3 separate regions of the Homo sapiens genome follow, and all the other regions are reported to be linked to region 3. The links are microRNA targets in miRTarBase. Many come from high-throughput screens and were not tested one by one. Region 3 holds a microRNA gene; each other region holds the end of a gene's coding sequence.

Evidence for each region. The annotated mature microRNA hsa-miR-512-3p reads AAGUGCUGUCAUAGCUGAGGUC and lies in region 3 at 2,150-2,171, opposite strand. An mRNA with a match to its seed (bases 2 to 7 or 8) in the 3' UTR can be bound and repressed. Matches are read on the target gene's strand: a 7mer-m8 pairs with bases 2 to 8, a 7mer-A1 pairs with bases 2 to 7 and ends in A, and an 8mer does both.
Region 1: miRTarBase lists CRISPLD2 as a target of hsa-miR-512-3p. The part of its 3' UTR that is shown has no 7-base or 8-base seed match.
Region 2: miRTarBase lists SYNPO2L as a target of hsa-miR-512-3p. Seed matches in the 3' UTR shown: 7mer-m8 at 2,052-2,058.

The regions. Positions count from the first base shown.
Region 1 is chr16:84,905,692-84,909,107 of GRCh38, reverse strand. It overlaps CRISPLD2 (cysteine rich secretory protein LCCL domain containing 2), which reads right to left. Exons shown (of 15, transcript NM_031476.4): 15 at 1-2,520. The coding sequence ends at 2,466. Among named protein-coding and RNA genes, the nearest start is that of LINC02176, 21 kb to the left of the region's middle.
Region 2 is chr10:73,644,035-73,647,450 of GRCh38, forward strand. SYNPO2L (synaptopodin 2 like) reads right to left here. Exons shown (of 4, transcript NM_001114133.3): 4 at 852-3,416. The coding sequence ends at 2,684. Among named protein-coding and RNA genes, the nearest start is that of MYOZ1, 4.3 kb to the left of the region's middle. RefSeq lists an enhancer at 64-113.
Region 3 is chr19:53,666,914-53,671,383 of GRCh38, reverse strand. It overlaps MIR512-2 (microRNA 512-2), which reads right to left and starts at 2,227; the gene lies at 2,130-2,227. The region is part of intron 2 of LOC107985342 (a long non-coding RNA gene); the gene reads right to left. RefSeq lists enhancers at 1,340-2,227, 2,228-3,116, 4,005-4,470.

The DNA of each region.
Region 1 (3,416 bases), not on the chromosome of region 3:
ACACAGGAGAGGTGGTGCTAGGGACAGGGCTTATCATTTATAGTCTTGTTTCCATTTTCTGAAGACAAATATTCCAGTTTCAAAATGTTTGTGGGGATGATAAAGACAGCCAGGTCCATGGCCGGGCGCAGTGGCTCATGCCTGTAATCCCAGCACTTCGGGAGGCCAAGGTGGGTGGATCACCTGAGGTAAGGAGTTCGAGACCAGCCTGGCCAACATAATGAAACCCCATCTCTACTAAAAATACAAAAATTAGCCGGGCATGGTAGCTCACGCCTGTAGTCCCAGGTACTTGGGAGGCTGATGCATGAGAATTGCTTGAACCCGGGAGGCGGCAGTTGCAATGAGCAGAGATCACGCCACTGCACTCTACCTTGGGCAACAGAGTGAAACTTGGTCTCGGGAAAAAAAAAAAAAAAAAAAAAAAGACAGCCAGGTCCTGCTCTGGGCAAGGACTTTCTATCCTGCTAGGAAGGCCCAGTGAAGGAGGCATTAAGGAACCCGGGGACTTTATTTTTAAATGATGGGGTCAACTCACACTGGAAGTTTCAAGTCTCCCTTGAGTGGGATGCTTTGGAAGCGAGCCCACTGGGATCGTCCTGGACCCTTCACTAATTCTGCAAACCCCACAGGGCGATCTAATTTATCTTGCAGACACAGACACAGCCACAAAAGTCCAGCAGCAGAGCACCCAGCACCCAGAAGTTTCCCAGATGTTTGGTGGTAACTGGACTCACGACCTGACAGGCTGACCGAATTCTTCCTCTCCGACATTTGGGGCTGAGGAGTCAGTACCTATGAATTACGACTAGACTACAATGCACAAAGCACGTAGTCCTGTGAATTTTAGCTCAGTCAAGCTAAGAGTTGAACTGCTTTTTACCAACTCCTTAAAGGGGTGGGTTTTTGTTTTGTTTTAAACCTATTTACCTTCAGATTCTGCATTTATTAGAAAGGCAATCAAAGAAAGAAGGCATCACCTAGGTGCCCAGGTAGAATTTCTTGTCCAGTCTACAGTATCTTAGTTTTTGACTTTCTGCTAGTTCTTTCACCTAAGAAATATTTTGAATCAAATTTGAAACTAGCATTCACCAAAGTGATCTATTGGCTGGCCCGGTGGTAGAGAGTGGAATTTTCACCTTCTGCAAAAAAATGCTATTTACAAAAGGGTACTTCATTTCACTGTGGGCTTTTGGTCTGGGCTCATGAAGCACTTTTATAGAGTGATGGCAGCCAGGGTGTACTACACTCCTTGGCGCCTCGGGAACGTTTGGCAAGAGTCGTTTCACGAAAACAGGAAAAGAGATCCTTCTAGTGTATTCCCATCTCTCGCTGTCATGAGGCCACAGACGGTTTCATAACCACAAACTGAGCTGCTAACCTCGGTGAGGAATGTACCAAAGACTCCATTCCTCCCACGGCTGAAAAAATAGGTCATCGGGTGCGTGGGGAATCTGCACATTTAATTGTCATTTTTTAAAAGCAGCAAAGAGCAGGCCTTCTTTGGTTGTTCTCAGACATCTCGTCTCAGTGGAACCTTACGAGACCAGGAGTTAAGACTTGGGCTTCAAACAGGTTCGCTTGCAAAGAAAAGTCCTGGGTGTGAACCAGGACACGTAAACCAGTCCGAGGCAGGGTGGGAGCCACAACGGGTAGGGGGTAAAGAAAGGGTCCCGATCCTTAGTCCTCAATGGGACCAAAGGTCACGGCAGAAAACAGGTGGGCCATGAAGACGAAGGGCCTGACAAAGACAAGATACATCTCTGAAGTGACTGCTGAACTCTACATAAACCAGCACTGCTGTGTATAGAGCCATCCTGAATGCGGCCATTGAAGGGGGCCTGTGGCGGGCCGCCAGCAAGGACACGTGCCAGGGCGGAGCCGGGGTCTCTCATACCCGCAGCCCTCTTACTCTAGCCCATTTGTCTGTCTGACCAGCAAACATTAAAACCATTTTCCTCTATTGGTAGGGACGGACTGTGTTTTTTATTTTTAAATAACTACCTTCTACTTCATTCCTGAAACTCATTGGCGCTTGCTCAAAAGGCCTCTTCCGACGCCGTGAATGCTTCACAATTGTGAGCTTCAAATGGTTTGTTCTTTTGGCAGGGAGGTTGAAATCAACTTCCTCCACCAACAGAAGAACACATAGCAAGGAACATTTTGGGCAACTGTCCCCTTTAAGAGACAGCTCAGATCTCTAAAGGAGAGAGGACGTCCAGATGGAGACCCCCAGGCCCCAGCAGGATCAGGCACCAGGGAGTCCGGCTGAGCACCTTGGGATGCTGTTGCTTCAGTGAGGGGATGAGATGTCACCTCACCCACAGGCCACAAAGTGATGGACACTGAACATCAGTCAAAGGAAGTTTCCTGACTCTCCATATACCCCGCAATGACAAAATAAAAATAAAAGCAAAACCCCGAAGCCCTCCTGAAGACGCCCCTTCTCCCCTGGTGCTGGAAATTCACTGCCTGACAGCAAAGATCCGGAAGGCCTTTCCATCCCGAGGAGTCCCCAGGCTGAAAAAAAGAAGAAAGAGGGCCCGTTACTGAGAGATCTGGAGGGCCTCCTGCAGGGACTCTGGGTGGGCAGGGAGACCTGGGTGCCTCCTGCTTGCTCCCGTAGTGGAAGAGCCATGGCCAAGGGACACTTCCTTGAAGCCGCCAGACACAGAGCCTGCCTTGAGTTGAGAACAGGTGGCAAATCCCATTTTCTCTGCACATGAGCATCCATCTGATTCTAGGTCAAGGCTGTTAAGTTATTTCCTTTTAACTCAGGGATCTGCTGGACCCAGTCTGTCTGGATTGGACTCACCCTCCGAGAATTCTGCTTGGTTTCACTACCACCTGTCAACCCGAACAGTGGTGTCTTGGGAGAGATGAACAGGTGCTATCTCAGCACTACTGCATATGCCAGGTGCTTCACCGCCTTCCACCTTCCTCCTGAGGGAGCTGTTATCGCTCGTTCACAGGGGAGGAAACGGAGACACCAGGAAATAAAGAGATTTACCCAGGGTCCCATGGCTAGTAAAAACTGCCCTCTCACAAGAGGAGTTAAATCCTTCAGCTAATCAAAGATGGTTTTTAAAAAAGAGCTTTAGGCCAGGCGCGGTGGCTCATGCCTGTAACCTCAGCACTTTGGGAGTGAGGCGGGTGGACCACCTGAGGTCAGGAGTTCGAGACCAGCCTGGCCAACATGGTGAAACCCCATCTCTACGAAAAATACAAAAATTAGCCGGATGTGGTGGCAGGCGCCTGTAATCCCAGCTACTCGGGAGGCTGAGGCAGAAGAATCACTTGAACCTGGGAGGCGGAGGATGCAGTGAGCCAAGATCAAGGCATTGCACTCCAGCCTGGGGGACAAGAGTAAGACTTTGTCTCCAAAAAAAAAAAAAAAAAAGAGCTTTATTGGTCAG
Region 2 (3,416 bases), not on the chromosome of region 3:
GAGGTTGCAGTGAGCTGAGATCGCACCACTGCACTCCAGCCTGAGCCACAGAGGGAGACTCCATCTCAAAAAAAAAGAAGAACTATAAATAGCTAAAGGTGACTTCATCATCACTACCACCCTCACCCTCAAAAACAAAAACAAACTGAAAGTTTGATCTCCTTCAACTGAGTACCCAAAACGACTGAGTGGGTGAAGACAGGCTATTTAACCTATGGTCTCTGAGATCTTTTTTTGGAATTCTAAGACAGTGCACTTGGAAGAGTCTGCGGCCTGGGTCTGATTATTGGCACAAATGTGCCCTCTGCTGGCAGAATCAGAGCAATGGCACTTTCCTTCTCTGAAGTCTAATTCTCACCTACCTCCAACGCCCTCCCTTCTTTAGTAGTCTCAATTCAGCTTTATTCTTCCCTCTCCCATCCCACCTTCCCCTCCAGCCCTCCAGCCATTGCTTTCTCTTCATTTACTTCCCAGAGACTGTTTAATATGGTTGCTTCCTCTAAGGAGCGAGGAAATGTTGATAGCAAAGGGCTCAGAGGGCCTTTCCAACTTCTCTGAGTTCTGTGAACTGAAGCCTTACCTAGAAAGTATGAGGCAAGGGAGGGAAAGGGGAGAACTTGGATGAAGACTGTGGGGAGAGGGAACCAAGAAGAGTGATGGAGGTGGCTAAATCAAAGCAGGACAGAATTTGTATAAAAGAGCAAAAGACCTGGGAACAAAGGGCAAAAGGATGAAAAATGGGAGGGCAGGAAAAGAGACAGATCAGAAATCAGATCAGGGGAATGGGTTAAAGAAGATTAAGGAGAGATCAGGATTTAGGAATAAAACTAGAAGATAACAGCAACAGAAGGTATGGGGCATAAATTTATTCTTGTGCACAAACCAAAGTATTGTGACTCACACCCAACAAGCAAAGGAAATTATCACTTTCCAGATTACACAGCAAACGTAGCTGGTGGTGGTCTTGGTGAGAAGGGAGTCCATACTAAGATTGGAGATCAGGACCTGAAGCTGAAAAGAAGCAATAGCTGGGGTTTTGAGGGATGGGGTGGGACTGAAAGGAGGTTTTGGCTCTGGGTATTTCCCTACTCTTTCCCAGGCAGTCATGGCAAGCTGCAGAAGACACACTGAAGAACAGACTCAAGGAAAATCACACAGACACCAACCGTTCTTTCAACACTCAGCACACACCCTCACACCTCCCTTCCACCATCATTCCCTTCCATTCTAACATTCTTCTCCCTCAAATTTTTTTCCAATCCCCCTCTCACACACGGTTGGTTTCTTGTTACTCAACTTTACCTTCTCCCAATATGGCATTGTCCCTCGCCACACTTCTGTCTGTGGCTCAATCACTTACACTCATTTCTGCCATGCTTCTGATTTTGGCCTCACTTGCCACACTCTGGCTCTCTTCTCCTTTCTCTCAAGCTCATGAGGCAATGAAGCCAATGATTTGTTCATTCTCGGAGGGAATTTTCTTTCTTTTTTTCATTTCCTGGGTACTGGGTTGCTCAGCACTGGCCTCTCAAGTTGCTAACTTTTTGAAATCCTGAGGTATAGAATTCTTTGTTCTATTCCTGGTCTAGCTGGTATAACTCAGCCCATGCAAACTGTCCTGGCCCTTCAGTCTTTTCATGCTCCATAACTTTCACAAGATGCTGTACACCTGCTACAGACATTGGTCTCTAAGGAGTTATTCTCTAGTGAATCTCTTTCTCCCACTCAACTCCATGTGGGGATATCTGACCCTTCTATCAGTACAACGATAAGACTCAGATTGGGTCTTTTGTTTGTTTGTTTGTTTTGAGACAGAGTCTCGCTCCGTCGCCCAGGCTGGAGTGCAGTGGCGCAATCTCAGCTCACTGCAAGCTCCGCCTTCCAGGTTCATGCCATTCTCCTGCCTCAGCCTCCCGAGTAGCTGGGACTACAGGCGCTCGCCACCACGCCCAGCTAATTTTTTGTATTTTTAGTGGAAATGGGGTTTCACCGTGTTAGCCAGGATGGTCTCGATCTCCTGACCTCGTGATCCGCCCGCCTCGGCCTCCCAAAGTGCTGGGATTACCGGCGTGAGCCACCGTGCCCGGCCTCAGATTGGGTCTTTATTTTGACCTCCCCTCTTATTCATGCCTTAGACGGAAGAGCACACACACACACACACACACACACACACACACACACACAGGCCTAGGTATATGCCAGTCAAGCTTGGGAAAGCAGAGTGGGGGGTGGGGGTGGCTTAGTGCAAACAGGGGTCAGTTCAGTCCCTTTGCTGTGTGCCTGGTGGTGAGCTTCTTGCCTGAAGTCCCAGTGGTCACTTCTGCTCTGTTTACTTCTCACTGAACATTAAAATGAGGCCCAGGGAGAAAAGCACAAATGTCAAGGAAGAGAGATCTGTGGAGGAATATGGGTGGAGAAGCCTGGAAATAAAGACAGAGATCCAGGAAAGGAAATGCAGAGACAAAGAGAGGCAAAGATACCAAAGCAGACATACTTGGTTGGAAAGCGGCAGGGAGGTAGAGAGTGAGGAGGAAGGTGGGGGAAGGGGACATCAACTTGGAAACCATCTCTGGCAGGAGGCAATTTAGCTTCCAGATGCGTGACAGGGGATGGGATAGGGTAGGAGAAGCAACTTTAGGAACTGGATGTTCCACCTCTCCTTGGTCCTGGGACCTGTGCCTGTTCACTGGTGCCCTGCCCCAGGCCTCCACACATGAGCTTGCAATCCTGTTCTGGTGGCTGAAAATCGGGGCCTGGCTACCTGGAAACCGCAGGAGCTGGGAGAAGCCCCAAGGCCCCTGGGAGCCTCTGGAGGAGGGGCTGGGCTAGGAACAGGGGCTGAGGCCAGTTCTGTTCTCCAGATGGGCTCATCCAGTGTAGTGGCTGCTCGGGGGGCAAGCACAGTGGGAGCCAGGGGTTCTGCAGTGGGCTGGGGTGCCGGAGTGGAAAACCGGCGAATCTCCTGGACTCGGGCAGTTTTGGGGGACCCTGAGGCGATAGGGCCAGGAGTCGGGGGAACCTCATCAAAACAGAACATGGCAGTTTTAAGTTGATAGGGCTGATGCCGCATAAAATCTAGAGCCTTGATGCCCTGCTTGGGTGTTGCCCGAGGCCCCTGGGATTGGGCCTTAGGGAGAGTTCGGGCCGCCTGGGGGAAAAAGGGAGAGAGCAGTGGGTTGTAAGCAATAGGAGGCGGGGCACGGATGTTGGGTGAATATTTCCAGGAAGGGGGCAGAGACGGGGTAGGAGAAGGACTTCTAGGCCGAGGGCCAAGACCAGGACCAGGTGTACCTTCCACCACATACCTGTCCGCACGGCTCTGCCGCTTAGCAAACAGCTCCCCACCCCTGCCCTGCAGCCTTGGTGGCTCAGGGATTCCAGCCGAAGAGGCTGCCCCATTCACGAGCCCATCAAGG
Region 3 (4,470 bases):
CCAAAGTGCTAGAATTACAGGCAGGAGCCACGGCACCCGGCCGTTTTTGGTTTTAAATTTCTCAGCATTACCTGTGAAAGAATCCAAGTGTACATTTCCACAGTCCTGTCTATGAACACAGAAGAAGGAGTGATTGGCAGCAAACTGATGCTTCAATGCCATGATAGGAGCAAGTGGGCTTCAAAACTATCCTAATACCTGTCCTTTTTTTTTTTGAGACAGAGTCTCGCTCTGTCGCCCAGGGTGAAGTGCAGTGGCACGATCTCGGCTCACTACAAGCTCCGCCTCCTGGGTTCATGCCATTCTCCTGCCTCAGCCTCCCCAGCAGCTGGGACTACAGGCGCCTGCCACCACGCCCGGCTAATTTTTTTGTATTTTTTTAGTAGAGACGGGGTTTCACCGTGTTAGCCAGGATGATCCACCCGCCTCAGCCTCCCAAAGTGCTGGGATTACAGGCGTGAGCCACCACGCCCGACCAATATCTGTCTTCTTGATGCAAATCCAAGTTTAGCATCCTCATTTGGGCATTCATTTGTTAATCTATTCTGCAGTCTTCTGATCTACCTCTTATGCTACTCTTCTTTGCAATTTTACTGTAAGGCAAGAAATTCCTAGTCTTCAGTAACCTGGAGTTAAGATACCAGTCCCCATCAGTTACAATCAAGGACTCACCTCAGCACTGAAAATGCCTGGGTCCCACACGTCACAGGCAATGTGCCAGTATGTTCTTATCAGACTCCAGAAAGCACTCCCAGATTGCATGTCACCAAGGAGACAGTGATCACAAGCCCCAGGGAAAACCTGCAAGGTAGCATAGAACCCATGTCCCTCCACAGGCAGTCCTCCTACAGCTCAACAGAAGACAGTGTTGGAATGTGTTGAATTCTGACATTCTGTTCTACCACCTCACGGGGACAGCGCCTGTAAAAGCCTTTGGGAGAGTGTGGCTGGGAAATGGGCACATTACTTCTCAGTGCACATCCAGCAAGTGATCCTCCATGTGTCAAAAAATCTTATGCTTGCTGGGCGCGGTGGCTCACACCTGTAATCCCAGCACTTTGGGAGACTGAGGTGGGAGGATCAACTGAGGTCAGGAGTTTAAGACCAGCCTGGCCAGCATGGTGGCACCCCATCTCCACTAAAAACACAAAACATAAGCCAGGCACGGCTGTAATCTCAGCTACTTGGGCGGCTGATGCAGGAGAATTGCTTGAACCCGGGAGGCAGAGGTTGCAGTGAGCTGAGATCACTGCACTGCACTCCAGGCTGGGCAATAGAGTGGGATCCTGTCTCAAAAAAAAAAAAAGAAAAATAAGGCCGGGCGCGGTGGCTCACGCCTGTAATCCCAGCACTTTGGGAATCCGAGGCGGGCAGATCACAAGGTCGGGAGTTTGAGACCAGCCTGGCCAACATAGTGAAACTCTGTCTCTACTAAAAATGCAGAAAACAGGCTGGGTGCGGTGGCTCACGCCTGTAATCCTAGCACTTTGTGAGGCCGAGACGGGCGGATCACCTGAGGTTGGGAGTTGGAGACCAGTCTGACCAACATGGAGAAACCCCGTCTCTACTAAAAATACAAAATTAGCTGGGCGTGGTGGCGCATGCCAGTAATCCCAGCTACTCCGGAGGCTGAGGCAGGAGAATGGCTTGAACCCGGGAGGCAGAGGTTGCTGTGAGCCGAGATCGTGCCATTGCACTCTAGCCTGGGCAACAAGAGTGAAACTCCATCTCAGAAAATAAAAAGAAAAATAGTGATCTCAGGTGATCCATCCACCTCAGCCTCCCAAAGTGCTGGGATTACAGGCGTGAGCCACCGCGCCCGGCCTCAGCTTGCTTCTTTCATTGTGTTGTGACTTGCCTCGAAATTCTTTCCAGCAAGAGATCCAAGAACCCGCTTTTGGGGTCTGGATTGGTTGCCTCTTCTCTGGCAATGGTGTGACCCAGGCTATCCCTGAATCCAAGCATTATAGCTGCTACGGAACCCAGCCTCACAACCCAGAGACCCTGGTCATTTCCTTAAAGCTGGGCTGAAGTCCAGTTTATGGCGCAGAACAAGCACCACGGTTTAGCTTTTACCTGCAGTGGCTCCTGGAGCCCCCCGCCCCCCCTCCCCCCCATGGTGTTTTTTCGGTGCTCGCCTCAGTCATTGGACCTCAGCTATGACAGCACTTTCATTCTGGCACCAGAAAGTGCCCTCAAGGCTGAGTGCCACAGACTGAGAAGTACCCTCCCTGTATTGTCCAGTACCTGGAAACTGCAGGCACATCCTCTATGCAGAAGATAAGAGATTTAAAACTGACTTCTGAATGTTGCTCAATAGTGAAAGGTAGATTGAGCATTCTCTCCAGTTCTCAGGAACAATGCAGAGCCTTGTAATGCAAATCCTAGGCCTGCCCTGGGGCTCATGCCTGTAATCCCAGCACTTTGGGGATCCCCAGCCTGAATAACACCTTTTAAATTACTTTGTTTTCTTTTTCTTTTTCTCTTTTTTTTTTCTTAGTCTTGCTCTGTTGCCCAGGCTGGAGTGCCATGGCGCGATCATCAGCTCACTGCAGCCTCCGCCTCCTGGGTTCAAGCAATTCTCCTGCCTCAGCCTCCTGAGAAACTGGGATTACAGGCGCCTGCCACCACACCTGGCTAATTTTTGTATTTTTAGTAGAGACAGGGTTTCACCATATTGGCCAGGCTGGTCTCGAACTCCCGACCTCATGATCCGCCCACCTCAGCCTCCCAAAGTGCTGGGATTACAGACGTGAGCCACCGCACACGTCCAGCACCTTTTAAATTACGTGGACAGGCCCGGTGTGGTGGCTCACCTGTAATCCTAGCAGTTTGGGAAGCCAAGGCAGAAGGATTGCTTGAGCACAGGACTTCGAAACCAGCCTGGGAAACATACTTAGCCCCCTTATCTACAAAAAATGCAAAAATTAACTGGGTATGGTGGTACGTACTTATAGTCCCAGCTACTCAGGAGGCGGAGGTGGCTCACTTGAATCTGGAAGGCAGAGGTTGCAGAGAGCCAAGATCTGGCCACTGCCCTCTGGGCACCGGTGTAGTCTCAGCTACTCGGGAGACTGATGCAGAAGAACTGCCTAAACCCAGGAGGTGGAGGTTGCTGTGAGTTCCCACAACTGCACTCCAGGCTGGGCAATAGAGTGAGATCCTGTCTCAAAAAATGAAAAACATTTTTGCTCTACAAGATTACATTTAATTGGCAACTACCTAGCTTTGAACCAGCAAGGGGAAAAGTAACAGAACGGCATGTCTGTCTCACTAACTTCTTGTTTTTTTGAGACAGGTTCTTGCTCTGTCCCCCAGACTGCAGAGCGGCAACACAGCCGTCGGCTCACTGCAGCCTCAACGTCCCTGGCCATACACAACTGCAGCATTTTGGCTAAACCAGCATGGCTTACAGAGAACAAGTAGTTCTTTCTCTCTCTTTTTTAAGACAAGCGTCTTGCTCTGTTGCCCAGACTGGAGTTCGGTGGCGCGATCTCGGCTCACTGCAACCTCCGTCTGCCGGGTTCAAGCAGTTCTCCTGCCTCAGCCTACCGAGTAGCTGGGACTGCAAGCCTGTGCCATCATGCCCAGCTAATTTTTTTGTATTTTTAGTAGAGATGGGGTTTCACCATGCTGGCCAGGCTGGTCTCGAACTCCTGGCCTTGTGATCCGCCCTCCTCGGCCTCCCAAAGTGCTAGGATAATAGGCGTGCGCCACTGCGTCCTGCCACAATAGTTCTTTCAATGGTAAGACTAGTTGAAAACCTGAGTTAGATGTGTATCTCTAATCTTAGTGATATTTAAATGTAAATAAAAATGTTATGTCTGGAACACACTTGGGCTGCTTGGGATATATTCAGATAAATACTATTATACATAATTTATAAATAAATACTATTTATTTACTAATAGGGTATCAGAAAGGTACAATCCCTATGTCTCCAGGTTGACATAGAAATTTTCTACTGGTCCGAAAGTTGCATCTGTACGACTGGCCAGTTGCTTCTGGTTCAACAAGGACCTAACCTGCCAATCACACAGGACAGCTGGGGGCTGACATTCCAAATTGTAATCTTTACTAGGCACAGAGGCTTAGCAGGCCTCTGGTTTAATAACACACGAAAGTAACTGCTTGAAGTAGCAAGGCACTCACTCACAAGGCACCTATAGAGTTGGTACTTATGGTCTGGAAATAGCCACATTGTAAGCTGACCACCAGTTATAATTACCAAATATTGGCAGGGCACAGGGGATCATGCGTGTAATCCCAGCACTTTGGGAGGACGAAGCAGGAGGATTGAGCCCAGGCCTCAGCTTGCTTCTTTCGCTGTGTTGTGACTTGCCTCGAAATTCTTTCCAGCAAGAGATCCAAGAACCCGCTTTTGGGGTCTGGATTGGTTGCCTCTTCTCTGGCAATGGTGTGACCCAGGCTATCCCTGAATCCAAGCATTATAGCTGCTACGGAACCCAG